Linked DNA regions of Homo sapiens: region 1 is reported to be linked to region 2. The links are microRNA targets in miRTarBase. Many come from high-throughput screens and were not tested one by one. Region 2 holds a microRNA gene; the other region holds the end of a gene's coding sequence. Distances are from middle to middle.
The links. Region 2 holds the annotated microRNA hsa-miR-6765-5p (GUGAGGCGGGGCCAGGAGGGUGUGU, at 4,310-4,334, opposite strand). A microRNA usually pairs through its seed, bases 2 to 8, with sites in the 3' UTR of a target mRNA and lowers its output. Matches are read on the target gene's strand: a 7mer-m8 pairs with bases 2 to 8, a 7mer-A1 pairs with bases 2 to 7 and ends in A, and an 8mer does both.

Region 1: miRTarBase lists GCH1 as a target of hsa-miR-6765-5p. Seed matches in the 3' UTR shown: 7mer-A1 at 5,856-5,862.

Annotation. Positions count from the first base shown.
Region 1 is chr14:54,837,287-54,844,646 of GRCh38, forward strand. It overlaps GCH1 (GTP cyclohydrolase 1), which reads right to left. Exons shown (of 6, transcript NM_000161.3): 6 at 4,731-6,857. The coding sequence ends at 6,731. Among named protein-coding and RNA genes, the nearest start is that of MIR4308, 37 kb to the right of the region's middle.
Region 2 is chr14:105,146,531-105,154,308 of GRCh38, forward strand. It overlaps MIR6765 (microRNA 6765), which reads right to left and starts at 4,334; the gene lies at 4,248-4,334. It overlaps JAG2 (jagged canonical Notch ligand 2), which reads right to left. Exons shown (of 26, transcript NM_002226.5): 6 at 5,631-5,761; 7 at 5,408-5,527; 8 at 5,096-5,209; 9 at 4,753-4,866; 10 at 4,461-4,574; 11 at 4,335-4,381; 12 at 4,074-4,247; 13 at 2,640-2,790; 14 at 2,407-2,559; 15 at 2,215-2,328; 16 at 1,796-1,909; 17 at 1,586-1,699; 18 at 1,242-1,358; 19 at 970-997; 2 more.

The sequences.
Region 1 (7,360 bases), 50 Mb from region 2:
AAAAGAGCCCCTGCTTGAAACACTCAGTTTGCCAGAATCTGCTTTTCTTTTGCTAAGGTGGTCAAAGTTCTGTAAGGAGGACACATTTTTCTTTTGCAGATGATTTTGCTAAAAAAAAAAAAAATTCAGAGAAAGCATCTAATGACTTTGAAAGAACACCAGAATAAACATAATGGATTTTACATTCTGATAGTTACACAAACTCCTCACCAGTTTAGAGTTACACCTTCTACCATTAGGAAGTACATAAAGTCAGCCTACATGCAGGAGACAAAGATTTTCATTCTGCCATGAAAGTAAAGAATTTCATTAAATATCTCTGATGATAGCAGCTGCCTGGCTTACTTGGGAGCAGAGGTGAAGGTAAATGTTTCCTTAATTATTTTGTGATGTTTGAATTTTGTGCTAACCACAGAATTACCAGTTTTTATTTATTTTTTTTAATTTGAGCATTTAAGACAGTGTGATTACATGGAACTACAAGGTGACCATCTCACACTCCTATAATCACTCCCAGCAGCACCTTTGAGTTCAAAGGGCAAAGGTGATAGTATACATCTTCAAATATGTGGGGGCACAGAGTGACAGAGGGCACCTGGAAAAGATTAACCAGCTACAATGGGAGCCAGAGGTAACCTAAGGGGCTGGGCCCACTGGTTAACAGAAAGGTCAACAGAAGCAGAGTCCAGGGAGCAACATCACCTCTTTAACCCAGTGTGGGTGACGCACATCATTTGACCCTCCCTGACACCCAACTCACTTATAAAATGGAAATACTCAATTAGCTGGGCACTGTAGCATGTGTCTATAGTCCCAGCTACTTGGGGGGCTGAGGCAGGAGGATCGCTTGAGCCAGGGAGGTAGAGGTTGCAGTGAGCTGTGTTCATGCCACTGCACTCCAGGCTGAGCAACAACAGAGCAAGATACTGCCTCAAAAAAAAAAAAAAAAAAAAAAAAAAAAAAAGAAAGAAAGAAAAAATATATATTCTTCCTTATAACAAGTCTTCCAGATTCGGTGTTGGGTACACACACACACATACATACACACACACACAGAAAATCTGGAAGATTTGTTTTCCATCCCCCAAACACTAAAATGCAGGAAACAAATTATGAGTTCTCAGAGCTCAGGGTTTCATGTTGATTTTAATGTCCTGTTTTGTGTGTGTTCTAGTTAAAAAGACAATGAGAATTCATTGTTGGCTTGTCTATACTTCAAGTGCACGTGATACTTTTTATTCATAATTATTTTTTAAATATATTAAATTTATATGGAAATTCTGTTAGAGTCAAGTGCTGACTCCACCAACCCCTTCATTAAGAGGTGATTCTGACAACTGTTAAGCAAGAGAAGGTCAGCTAAGATTTGGATAAGACTTCAAATACTCCTTGATCACATGCAAATCAACTTTCAGAAATGAGACTTCAGGCAAGAAATTTTGCTCTGAGATTAGTTGTCTTGGGCCGGGCACAGTGGCTCAGCACTTTGAGCTGAGTGTAGTCTTAGCACTTTGGGAGGCCAAGGCGGGTGGATCACTTGAGGTCAGGAGTTCGAGACCAGCCTGACCAACAGGGTGAAACCCTGTCTCTACTAAAAATACAAAAATTAGCTGGGCGTGGTGGAGGGCATCTTTAATCCACTACTCGGGAGGCTGAGGCAGGAGAATTGCTTGAACCAGGAGGTGAAGGTTGCAGTGAGCCAAGATCATGCCACCGTACTCCAGCCTGGGCGACAGAGCGAGACTCTGTCTCCAAAAAAAAAAAAAGAGAGAGCAAAAGAAAGATTAGTTGTCTCTAATTGGTTAAAGGTACTTGAAAGTTCAAAGGTACAAACTGAAACAGTCAGGTTGCTTCCTCTCTCTGGTTAGACTTGTTCAATCTGCAAATGGAAATTCCTTTAAAATTTCCCAAATTGAGAGGAGCGGAAGCCACTGTGTGGGCCCACAAGAGACTGTCATCTGTCCAGATACAGACGTCAAAGGCCGTTCTTCCCAAGCAATCAGGAACGCAGTTGAGGCTGGCAGCAGTGAAGCCAAAGAGAGACAGAGACCAAAACCCACCTCCAGCCAAAACTGGTTGAGCAGCTGCTAGGAGACCAATGACCAGATGACCAATACGGACCAATAATTCTGAGGTCCCTGATAGAACCAGAATGGTTTTAAGCTGATTTTTATTTACTAGCTTTTTTTTTTAATTCGGTTTATCCCCCTTGGTTTTAGAAGTAAAATGTCCTTGCAAAGAGAAAAGTTTCCATAAAGAATTTTGTCAGTCTAGATAGAATGACTGTAAAAATTATCACTACACATATAATGGGAAACTCCACAAAAAAACAAATTAGAAAAAAAGAAATCTCATTTATTTGTTCAGTACATTTTTGAATGTGAAAGGATCCAGGAAAAGGAGGAAGAATAAAAAATGCATTCTAAAATCAGGGAAAATCAATAGCCTGAGAGGAAGTTGTACATACACACACCCAGGCATTTCATCACAGGACTCCCTCCACACAACCTTCCCAATGCTCACCGGCAGCCAAACCACATTTCTCTGGGCAGCACAGTCAGTTCCAGATTGAAAGGATTTCTCAAAAGGTCAGAGTTGTGGACATATTGCTCAAAACAAACAGGAGAATGTAGAAATAAGAGGAAAAGTGGATAGGTGCATTAGGGCTGTGTAATGCAGGTGCCAGGAGTTATCCTACCAGGACCCACAAGCAAGTCATAGCTGCACTGCTAGGGAGGGAATAAAGGGAGCTGCTTAAATGCAAGACGCAGTGTGTCTTCCTTCACCACCCTTTGTCGGCCAGAGCCTGATATTCATACTCAGGATGTCATGAAAATGTAATTGATGAGGTCGAGGAGCCGGGGGGAAGAAACCCAAGTACTCCTACTGTCCAACCCAATGGAATTCCCCATGGGTAGGCCCTCAAAGTGATGCCAATTACTGTGAGATTCATTGTTTTCACTTCTGTAATAACCTTTCCACCTTAACCAAAATCTTGGCAGCCAAGGAATCCACCAAGCTGAAGCCAAAGGCAGCATGTTTTAAAATGGAAGCCTTGCCCAAAAAGGACACACTCAGAAAAAAGCAATGAATTCTATTCTGTACCTGGGGAATGGCTCTAAGTTACAAAGCCAAGGAGAGCTATGTTCCAGTTAAAAGCCAGACAGAACCAGACCAAGCTAGGCTGCCCAGGAGTAGGGGTTTAGGGACGTGGAGAAGTGTTGTGGCAAAGAACCCTTCTTTTCCCTGTTTAGCTGGAGTTTGACCTCATTTGGACAGCCACAGACATTCCAGCAACCAGACAGTTCCTGGAATAAACACGGGGCTTCTCCAAAACAAGTGACCAGATAAATTTTAAGGAAAACAGAGGAGGGAGTGGAAAGAGAACATATAAGATTCTTAAGAGACTTAAATCAACCTGTTGCAATGTGTGGATCTCGTTTGTACCTTGATTCAAATAAACTACTAAAAACTACACAACAGTAGGGGAAAATCTAGATATTTGAATTGACACTAATTTTTAGTGTGATAATGGATGTATTTGATCATATATTTCTTTACCTGATTCCACTTTATTTAGATAATCTGAAATATTTATGGATGAAATAATGCCTGGGATTTGCTTTGCAATAATCTGGTCAGATGGGTATAGAGGAAAACAAGATGGCGCCATTGAGTTGAGACTTCTTGAAGCTGGGTGATTAGTACACAGGGGTTCATGTGCTCATCTCTCTACTGATGTGCATGTTTCATTTTCTGTAACAAAAATTAAAAGAAGGCAAGGGCCTCTGGGAGGGTGAGGAGTCAGGTACTCACACTTCCCCTTGATCTCTTGAGACTTCTTCTTCTCTCCATCAGCAGGAGGACCCATGCCTGTGATGATGAATCCAGGTGCTCTGTTTTGACAGAAAGGCTTCTTGAAAACCTTTCATGTCTGCAACTGCTCTTCCACTAAGTGAAAAGGAACTTGGCCAATCAATCTTCGGTGACAAAACTCAGAAGCAGCAACTCGGGCTTAGCTGAGCAGCTCATCGTTTTATTGACACCTATGAGTGGTGGTTCTAGGAATGTTTTATGCCAGTAAGCATTCCTACTTTGATAAGATTTGCTACCCAACGGTCCACAGGGTCCCACAAGGAGCAGCAGGCCCCAGTACTTGGACATGCTGGCCACCAGTGAGGGCAGGGGCGGCCTCTGCCTGTGGGCAGCACGGAATGGGGAGGAGACCATTAGCAAGAGGGAAAGGAGGTTGTTGGGCATGGGACAGAAGAGCAGCACAAAACCCCTTGCACTAACTGGAAGTTTTGCCCTGGGCAGGCTCTTCCTAGAAGAGGGAAGGAAACCCTTTTCCACTCCCTGCCCCAGCCTACTCTTCCTTCCCCAACAGCTCCCACGTAGGAAACAGTGCCAGTTCCCAGGGGGCTGAAGTTACCTACTAAGCATTAAGACAACAGGGACATGAGGGCCACTCAGATTCCTGACTCTTATCCCAGACCTCCTCCTCCCATTACCTCAAGACAGTGAGGACGGTAAGACTCCAACCAAATACCAAGGAGAAACTGTCAGAACCTGGGGTTACTTCGTACTATAATGGAGATTAGTATTCAAATAGCTTTGATGGCTGGGAGAAGCCCTTATGATGTCTTTGCTGAAACAGAATACAGCCAAAATAATCAAGTTATTTAAATATTTATAGTGGTGGTTGAAAAAGAAACAACTTTCACAAGAACAAAGTTACAATAGTTTAATAATTTAAATAGGACCACCTTCAGGAACATACATACTCATACATAAAATTAAACAATTTAATTTTGAACAGTGTATTGAAATACATCAAATTCTTAAAAATCCCCCAAATGGACTCAAGATCATGGATATGAAAAGGTAATTTTGAAGTACTAAAGACTAGAGTAAAACAGACAAAGTCATTACTTTGCATTTACTAATAAGACAACAGCCTGTGGATACATTAGACCTTTATAAGAACACTTCTAGGAAATGTTAGAACAACGAGTCATTAAAAAGGAATATAAATGAGTTCATAAAGATAAATGTATAGCTGACAATTTCTTTGGTCCTCGAAGTCACACTTGTTTTTACTTTAAAATGCCAAACATGAGTTGAGTGCTCAGAATTCTACCTATAAATGTCTAAATATTAAGCAGGCTAATGTTTATACTGGGCTAGATTTAAAAAGGTACTCAAGCCAACCATCACTGTACTTAAACTCCAGAAAGAAAAAGCTAGGAAACAGAAGTAGAGAGGAATGGAAAAAAACAAAAAAACCCAATACCTCTGCCATCTTGCCCCATCATAACCCAAATAGCATCAAAGTGGCAGAGATGGGACTAAAGTTAAAGCAAGCATCAAAGTTATTACTTTTAGGGTAATGGGATGAATTTGAAGAGCACTATGTCAACCAAATACTAAACTTCATGGAATAACTGTGTTTGTGTTTCTGTGGAGGAGTTGCGGTTTTGTTTGTTTTAATTTGGCCCACGCTGCCCCAATGGAGGAAATTTTAAGATAATCATTAATAAGGCAACAGCTTCCAGGATTAAAATACCTATACCATCTATACGGAGTTACAATGAGGACAAGACCCACATAGACCACAAAGGAAACCGGGACCAGAAGCTTCCAGTGCATTTTCACAGATCGTTGGTACGATACGCTTTGGTTAAAACGTTGGACACAGCTCATAATGTCTTCCACCGTCAGTTCATTCTGTGCTCGTTCAGGTGCGTGGAAGCTATGGTTCTGCAGACCTGAAAATGATGGGCACTCTCAAATGTTTCTGGAAATACTTAGAAAAATATCTTATAAGATTAAAAAAAAGAAGAAGAAGAAACATTTTGAGGCATCTACATGGATCACACAAAGGAAACTCAATAAACCTATAAAGTTAAAACTGAGCTGACTAGTTATTTGCAGTGTGAGTACTAAGTCTCATAAAATAATGGCTTTTTTAAAAAGGCAAAAGTATCTACACTCTAAATGATATTCTTATCAAGGCACAGAGAGTTAAATGTCTAAATCCCTGTATGTTGACACGAGAATACACTCGTAAACAACACCAGGAACTAATTCCCTATTCTTGAATTTAAAAACAATAGAAGGTAGAAATGTGCCTTTTTAACTCACAGTAAAATCAAAAACATAGACATTCCACCACCTTCCCTTGGTGACTAACATTACGACTGCTAAAAATATATTTTTAAATGTCACTGGTGGTTTAATAAACATGACCAAAGTGAAGTCTGTTGAACTTGAATTCACAGAGCAATACCGCACTAAATATTTTAGCACTTTCGGCACTACACCACTTTTATTGGAGGAAGAAAAAAAACAGTATACTGGGCACAGTTCCCTCTCATTCCCAATGCTCCTATGCTTATGAGGCAAATTACTGTACTATTTGAAAAAAATACACTAATTCTTCTCCCTTCCCAGGCCCCTCTGGTTATCTGGCAGTGGTTTTGTGCACGTACTTACACTATTAGCAGTTCACTTTAATATTGCCACAAAAAGGTGGCAAGAAGAAAGTAGAGGGCTCAACCCTTTATTATATTTATTTGACTTCCTAGAAATAATTTTAAATATAATTAGTGACAAGGAATAAAGTTCACATCTGTAACAATTGAAAATGGAATGTACAAACAAGACCGGACAGACAGACAATGCTACTGGCAGTACGATCGGCAACCAACGCACACACACTGAATGAAGCTCAGCTCCTAATGAGAGTCAGGAACTCTTCCCGAGTCTTTGGATCCTCCCGGAACACACCCAACATTGTGCTGGTCACAGTTTTGCTGTTCATTTTCTGTACACCTCGCATTACCATACACATGTGTCTACAAAATAAGGCAACACAGGTTGTTTAAAGGAGTAGACAGCTGCTGGTTTGGTTTTTAAAAGCAGGCCTAAAGATTAAATCTCAGCTCACAGTTACCAAGTATATCGAAATATCCCTTCTTACACAAATGTTATCTATTAGGTTCATGCAAAAGTAACTGCGGTTCTTGCTATTGAACATAATGGCAAAAACTGCAATTATCTTTGCAGCAACCTAAACTTTTTGTTCTTGAAGTTGTCTTGCAACTTTTATTTTTATCAGTAGTTGATCCTTAAAGCATCCAAAAAGGGGAAAAATGGAATTTTCTTCTGGGGTGAAAGTAATATAAAAGGTCTACAGAGTTACTTAACTTCTAGATCAAAAGAAAGTCAGAATTCTCACTTGCTCTGCCTTCAGGACCAAGACAGCACTATGCTAGCCTAGGTGTTCAGATAAATGCTCAAGTATACTGATGTCACCAGGCAGAATTCAGATAATGGTGACCAGAGATCCTGTCTGAGC
Region 2 (7,778 bases):
GTGGGCATCTGGCCCTCGGGGCTGGGTGTCACCCATGCCCCCCAACCCGCCCCAACCCAGGGCAATCACACGGGGCCTACCTTCCTGGCACCGGGGGCCGGCTCGGCCGGGTGGGCAGCTACAGCGATACCCGTTGATCTCATCCACACACGTGGCCCCGTAGGCACAGGGCGAGGACTGGCACTCGTCGATGTCTGCAGGGAGAGCCACCGCTGCTCAGTGCAGTGAGGCCAACGCCCACCGCAGGACCGGCATGGCCTAGGGCAGCGGGGAGCCAGTGGCACACAGGCGCAAGCCCCAGGACAATGAGGAGCAGCCCCTGCCCCCGAGCCCAAGCTGCTGCCTGCCTGAGGCCTTCCTGAGCCCAGCCTGACCCTGGCCCAACAGCACCCTCCTCCGTCTGCTTCTGCAGTGGGCCTGTCCCATCCTGGATTAGCCCCAGCTGCTGCGTCGGACCAGCCAAGGGGTGCTGGACAGACAGCTGGGCCAACACCCAGGGACAACAGCCCTGCGGCCACAGAGGAGCCCACGTCAGGCTGCACGCTCCAACCCCCACAGCTCCCTGGGCCCCGGACTGGTCCCCCAGGCTGGGGCTCCCCACTTAATCACTTGGCAGGGTATACAGCAGGAACCCCACAGGGCACAGACATGTGGGGAAACTGAGGCTCAGAAGAGAGGCAGGAAGTAGTTGTGGCCACACTGCCCTTCAAGGGACGTGGACGTTGATGTCCCCAGACTCCTGACACCGCGGCTGGGCTGAGGGGCTCCCAGGGCTGGGGCTGTCTGGCCACTCACTGATGCGGCAGTCAGGCCCCGCGAAGCCAGGTGCACACTCGCAGCGGAACCAGTTGACGCCGTCAACACAGATGCCACCATTGTAGCTGCAGAGCAGAGGGTGGGCATCAGGTGGCCCCCCGTGGTATGCCAAGTCCCACCCACCCCTGCTGTGGCCCCCAGGGTGCCACTCACCAAGGCAGAGGGTTGCAGTCGTTGGTATCTGGTTTGGGAGAAGAGAACGCAGGGGATCAGTACCCACCCCCCAAGCGTGCCAGGCACTGTCCAGGCTGGCTTGGCGTGATCAGGCTGTGGGGCTGGGGAGGGTCATCAAGGAGGGTGCCTTTTGCTGGGGGCAGGGGCAGCAGGGGGAGGGGCTGGCAGAAGGGACTGGGGGGCGAGTCGGGGGCAGGGATGTCATCTGGGTGGAGGAAAGCGGCCCCCGCCCACACCCCTCCCACACTCACTGTGAGTGCAAGTACGACCCTCCCAGCCGTCCCGGCAGATGCAGGAGAAGGAGGCCCCGCTGCCCACGCAGGTGCCACCATTCACACAGGGGTTGGGCAGGCAGCTGCTGTTCTTGGCTGTAAGGAGAGGAGGAGGAGGGAGCGTCTCACCTGGCCCTGGGCTGGCCCTGGGTCTCCATACCGCGCCCCCAACCCAGACAGGGCAGACAGACCCGGGGGCAGGGGGCAGGGGGCAGGTGGCAGGTGTGGCCCTCAAAAAAGACCCCTCGGCCCATCGCGCCCGAGGGAGCGGTGCCTGGGAGGGCATATGCCCGGCGGTCGCAGAGGCAGCGGGGGCTCCTCACCGACGGCGCAGGTGCTGCCCTTCCAGCCGGGGGGGCAGGCGCAGCGGAAGGTGTCGCCGCTGTCGTAGCAGGTGCCACCGTTGCTGCAGGTGTAGGCATCGCACTGGAACTCGCCTGTTGGCACATGGGCCGCTCAGCAGGCAGGCCCCAGACCGCCAGGGCCAGGGTCCTGGGGGCAGCCCCAGGCGGCCAGGGCCTGCGGACACTCACGTGAGTGGCAGGTCTTGCCCTTCCAGCCGTCGTCGCACGCACAGTAGAAGTCATTGACCAGGTCGTAGCAGCGGCCGCGGCTGTGGCAGGGATCGGGAAGGCAGTCGTTGGGATCTGGGGGCGAGGACGCCGGTCAGCGGGCGGGGGGTCACCGGCGCTCAGGGAGGGCTTCCCGGGGGAGGAAGCACTGGAGCTGGGCCAGGTGAGGACAGAGAGGGGCGGGGGAGGAGCGTCGGGCCGGGGGAGCTGGCCTCGGGCATGGGGGCAGCCTGGGACTCCACCCCATGGTGGCAGCACCCCCTGGCCAGGCCTTTCTGGGTACGGGGCCTGCCGCACCCAGACAGCGGTCCATCTCAGGGTGATAAGGGGCCCACAGGGGTGGAGGCACAGGCCGTGTGGGCGGGTGCTGGAACACTCACTGGTGTCGCAGAGCTCGCCCTCCCAGCCGCTGGGGCAGAAGCAGCGGAAGGCGTCCACCTCATCGATGCATGTGCCCCCATTGCGGCAGGGCTGGCCCAGGCAGTCGTCAATGTCTGCAGAGGCGAGCGGGGTGAGCCAGGGCCTCAGGCCAGCCCAGCCCCACCACCAGCCCGCCGTTCGTGGCCACTCACTCTCATGGCAGTAGGTGCCAGTAAAGCCACTGTCACAGATGCAGGAAAAGTTGCCCCCTGGCTGGCTGACGCAGCGTCCATGGGGGCCACACACGCCGGAGGCTGCTGTGCCAGGCATCCCAGGCCCCGCGTCTGACCCGCAGCCATCGATCACTATGGCAGGCAGTACAGTCAGGAGTCAGGCCCGCCCCTGCCCCACCACCTCCCCCACCACCCCATGCCGCACCCAGCACCTCTGCAGGCCCCGCCAGGGCACGGCTCGCGGGGCACGGAGCAGTTCTTGCCACCAAAGTCATCAGGGCAGGCGCAGTAATAGTCACCCTCCAGGTTATAGCAGCGAGCGCCGTTCCGGCAGGGGCTTGGCTCACAAAGGTCGACATCCACCTGCAGGGTGGGGGGTGCCTGTGAGAGCCTAGGCCCAGGCCCAGGCCGGGAACACAGGCCAGGCCTCTGTCCATACGAAGGTAGATCCCTGGGGACCCCCAGGCCCCTCCGCCCTGGGCCTAACAGTGCCAGCCAGAGCCCAAGACCCCTGCCCACCTGAGACTGCCCAGGCCTTAGCTGAACGCAGATACCTGTGGGCCCCCACCCCCACCTCCACTGCAGCCCAGCTTCCTCACTGTCCCTCGGGAGGAGTGTGGCCTTGGCCCCTGCTGCTGGCAGGAAGGACAGCTCCTGAGCCCCTCACACACTGCCTGGCCACCCTCAGAGCCAAGACTGTGGGTCTTTTCCAGGGCCAGCCACTGCCATGCTTGCAGGTCCTGAGGTCAGACCCCTGCCCTGGGCCCCAAGAAGCCCTCTGGACAGGAGGCCCATCCTCTGCACCAAGGCCAGGGCAGGATCGTGGGCGGCCGAGGGTGGTAGGGAGGTGGGTGGGGGGAGGCAGGGAAAAAGGGGAAGTAAGGGGAGGGGGTGGTAGGGAGGCAGGTAATGGGGAGGCAGGGTTGGGGGAGGTGGGGAAGGGGGTGGTAGGGAGGTGGGTGGGGGGAGGCAGGGTTGGGGGAGGTGGGGAAGGGGGTGGTAGGGAGGTGGGTGGGGGGAGGCAGGGTTGGGGGAGGTAGGGGAGGGGTGATAGTGAGGTGGGTGGGGGGAGGCAGGGTTGGGGGAGGTGGGGAAGGGGGAGGTGGGGAAGGGGGTGGTAGGGGTGGTGGGGAAGGGGGAAGGCAGGTTACTTTGGAGGCAGGGGGGAAGGGGAGGTTGGGGGAGGGGGTCCAGTACCAACAGATGGTCAGAGGGAGGCGAGAGCATCAGCCCTGAGAGAGATGCCCACTCCGACCCAGGACTCACCTATGACAGGTGTATACCTCTCCACCATCAGGCACCCACCCTACCCCATGTGCTCTGCCCACCAGAGCCCCCTGCCCTCCAGTCCCGAGGGAGTGCACAGATGGACAGATAGGCCTGGGCAGCCAGCAGCCCGGGGGCTCCTAGCCCAGGCCACCAGGAAACCCATCACAACAAGCAATGGCCACAGGGGGCCAAGCCTGGTGACCTGTGACAGCCCCGCCTGCCCACCTGGCACCCAGTGGAGAGCTGAGCCTGGGACGCCTTGGGGACAACTTCCCCTGCAGCACCCCTGGGTCACTCAGGCCCCATGGTCAGGGGACGAGGCCTGCCCTACAGCTCCCAGAGCAGCAGGTGGGGCAGGGTGACCAGGCAGACCTCACCTCACAGAGAGGCCCGGAGAAGCCCTGGGGGCAGTGGCAGTGGAAGCCGTCGGCCAGGTCCTCGCAGAGGCCGCCGCTGTGGCAGGGGCTGCTGGCACACTCGTCTCGTTCCAGCTCGCAATGCCGGCCTCCGAAGCCCCGTGGGCACACACACTGGTACCCGTTCACCAGGTCCTGGGCGGGCCAGCCAGGTGAGCGTCCCGCAGGCACCCTGACGGCCCCGCAGCACCCACGCCACACACCCTCCTGGCCCCGCCTCACCTTGCAGGTGCCCCCATGCTGACACTGCCCGCGACAGTCGTTGACGTCTGGGGGCAGAGGAGCAGGGTCAGAGGCGGGGTCCCATGTGCCTCGGCCCACCCGCCGGCGCCCACCCCCCATACTGACTGATATGGCAGTTGATGCCCTTCCAGCCCGGGATGCAATCACAGTAATAGCCGCCAATCAGGTTTTTGCAAGAAAAAGCGTTAAGGCATGGCTTCCCTTCACACTCATTGGCGTCTGTGAAAGAGACAAGGTGGGAGCCGTGGGGCTCGGGCCCTGCCTGCCCCCTGCAGCACGGGCACCTGGCACCCGCAGCCCAGCAGCCCCAGCAGCCCCAGCAGCCCCCGCAGCCCCAGCAGCCCCCGCAGCCCGCATGCGCGGCCCACGTTCCCATGCACTCGCTCGGAGCCCTTACCCAGCTGGCAGGTGGCCCCCACCCACTGCTCGGGGCAGATGCACTCAAAGCCGTCCACCTGGTCCACACAGGTGCCACCGGCCGCACACGGGTTCGAAGCACACTCATCGATGTCTGCAGAGGGTGGAGAAAGGTGGGGCCCTGGCAGTGTGAGCCGTGGGAATAAGGTCCCCATGGGCAGGTGGCGCTGCAAGCCTGGGTCTTCCTGCCATTTGTCCTCGCCAAGCCAGCCGCAGCCACACGTGTGGACTTGACCACTGCACCCCATCCCCAGCGAGTTGCCCCACTCCCAGACCCCCACTGATACTAGGCAGGAGTCCCCTACTCACGTGCAGACACTCACCAAGGGCACAGGTGGGCCCGCTCCAGCCCGATGGGCAGTGGCATTCGAAGCCGGACGGCACCTCATGGCAAGAGCCCCCGTTGGCACACGGGTTGGAGGTGCAGGCGTGCTCAGCTGTAGAACCGCGGGGAGGGGGCAGAGCTGGCAGCCAGGCCCCCAGCTTTCCACAAGCACTCCTCCCCAAGCCCACAGGTTCCCAAGCTGGGGGTCAGGGGCCCACCACACAGGACGCCAGAGGGATGGGGCCTGACCGGCTCCCCAGGGAACCAGTCCCTGCCTGGCCAGAATTTGGGTGGCCAGCCCCCCACGTACCCTTCTCACAGTTCCTGCCCGAGTAGCCGTCAGGGCAGGTGCAGCGGTACTGGTCAGGCTCGGCGTTGATGCACGTGCCTCCGTTGGTGCAGGGGTGGTGGCTGCCACAGTAGTTCAGGTCTGGGGGCAGGGGTGGGATGCTCAGGGGAAAAGCCGGCCCCCCGCTCCCCCACAACCCACACTTCGATGGCAGAGCATTAGGCCTGCCGCCCCCTACCACTACCTTTGTCACAGAGCAGGCCGCCCCAGTTGGTCTCACAGTTGCACTGCCAGGGCTCCACACAACTGCCATGCACGCAGCCGGGGTAGGGGACACACTCATCGCAGAACCTCCCTTGCCAGCCGTAGCTGCACCTGGGGGAAGGAGGAGGGGCGCAAGACCCAGTGAGCTGTGGTGCCTGAAAGGGTGGCAGGGGAGCCAGGCACAGTCACCCACGCCACACCCAGGGCCGGCGGGCGGCCTCAGGCCTTTGAACTGGAGCAGCCCCAGCCAGGCAGGGGTTGCAGCCCTGCCGGCCAGCCCCACTGTCACGGGCATTCCCGGCCGCTGGCTGCCGACGGTCAGCCCCAGCTGTCCCGTCACTCCTCCCTGAGCTATTTTGGGATTCACCCGTGAGCTGGGCCCCGAGAGCAGGCACCAGGAAAGGAAGGCCCTGCCGGGACCCCGGGGATGAGAATGCCGGCTCGGACTCACAAGGTGCTGCCAGGGCCGGGAGGCACCAGGGGCTGGGTAGGCCAGCGGGCAGCAGGGGAGCACTCCTGGCTCTGCCTCGGCCATGTGGCCCTGGGCACAGCACGTGCCCTCGCCCCCACCTCAAAGGCAGTCATTTCGCTCGCTCCCAGTAAAGTCCCACAAGGTACCCATCTCACAGATGGGGCTACTGAGGCCCACAGGCTGGCCTGGGCCAGCCCTGCCCAGGGTAGTTCCTGATTCTGCAGGAGCTCCAGCTGCACCCCCAGCTGCACCCCCCAGGACACAACCACCAGGACTCGCCCTGCCCCAGGCTATCGGCCAACGTCCTGTCTTGGGAGTCCCCCAGGAGAGGGCAGGTGGCCAGGGTAGAACATGGCCTGACTTGAGGGTGCCTCCGTCAGGGGAGAGAGCCTGCAACGACCCCAAGGCTCAGCAGGCTGCCATCCAGGCCCTGCCGGGACTCCCGGGGGGCCCTTCCTAGAACTCTCCGGTCCTGCAGGACGGGAATGTCATCCAGGCCACGTCACTTCCACACCGGCACCCGCCACACTTTATTTTTGTAAAAGGAAAGAACCACGGCCCTTCCTGAGCCGCCCTCAAGCCACACAGCCAGCACCGAAGGCCTATCAGCCCAGTTCAGCTGCCACAAATGGGGAAACTGAGGCCGGGAAGAACGTGTCTCCAGTATCCAGCCCAGCATGCACAGTGGTCCGCGTGGGTGGCCTCACATCCCGCCTAGAATCCCTCCTCCACAGACACAGAGACCCAGGCTCAGGGCGGGGCTGTGACACACCTTGGGTCATCGGCCAGAGAGCGGCCACAGCCGGGCTCAGAGCCCAGACCTCGTGGGTCCCAAGGGCGTGCTCTCGACCCTGGGCAGGGCAGCCCACACCAGGCCCCCACCTCCTGGTTTCCCCAGCCAGCAGCCCCAGGGCCCTGGAGAGGCGGCGGCAGGAAGGCATGGCCATCTCCGCAGCATCCGGTGGGGGGGCGTCCTGCACTGGAACCTGAGCCGAGGCTGTCAGCAACAGCTGGGCCTCCCCGACAGGGCCAGCAAGAGGGGCAGGCGGAGCTCACCTACTGCCCCCACCCACCAGGCCCCCCAGACTCCGGCTCATCTTCCTGCGGGTAAAGGGCAGGGATGGCCAACTTCTCTGCTGCCTTCCTCCAGCCTTGGTGTGACATTCAAGCTGCCAGCCAGCAGCCATCCAGGGAGGGTGGCACTGCCATCCAGGTTGTGTGATGCACACTGGGCCAGGCGAGGGTGAGTGGGGCCGACTCCCGTAGATCTACATCTACATCTGCCCAGACCAGGTCCACCTTGTTGCACTTTCTGAGCTGACTTGGGACTCGCTCAACCTGCCGGGAATCCCTGTGTGTGCAAGTGACCGGGTGGGCGGCCCCAGCCCTGCTTGCCTCCCCGCTCTGGGACTGGCCGGGAAAGCTCCTCACTGTACCCTCCAGGCCACTCAACCGTGGGGCCTGTGGAAGGGTCACCCACCTCCCCACCTTGGCTCCCAACTCAGCTGGTTCCCAAACTCCCCGACTCCTCTCCAAAACGCCACGCTGTGTGACCCTGGGGAAATCAGTAGGCTCTCTGTGCCCCAGTGTCCTCGTCCCATGGAGGCAAACCCACTCCACAGAGGGAGGTCCTGGGACCCCTGCAATCCAAGGCTG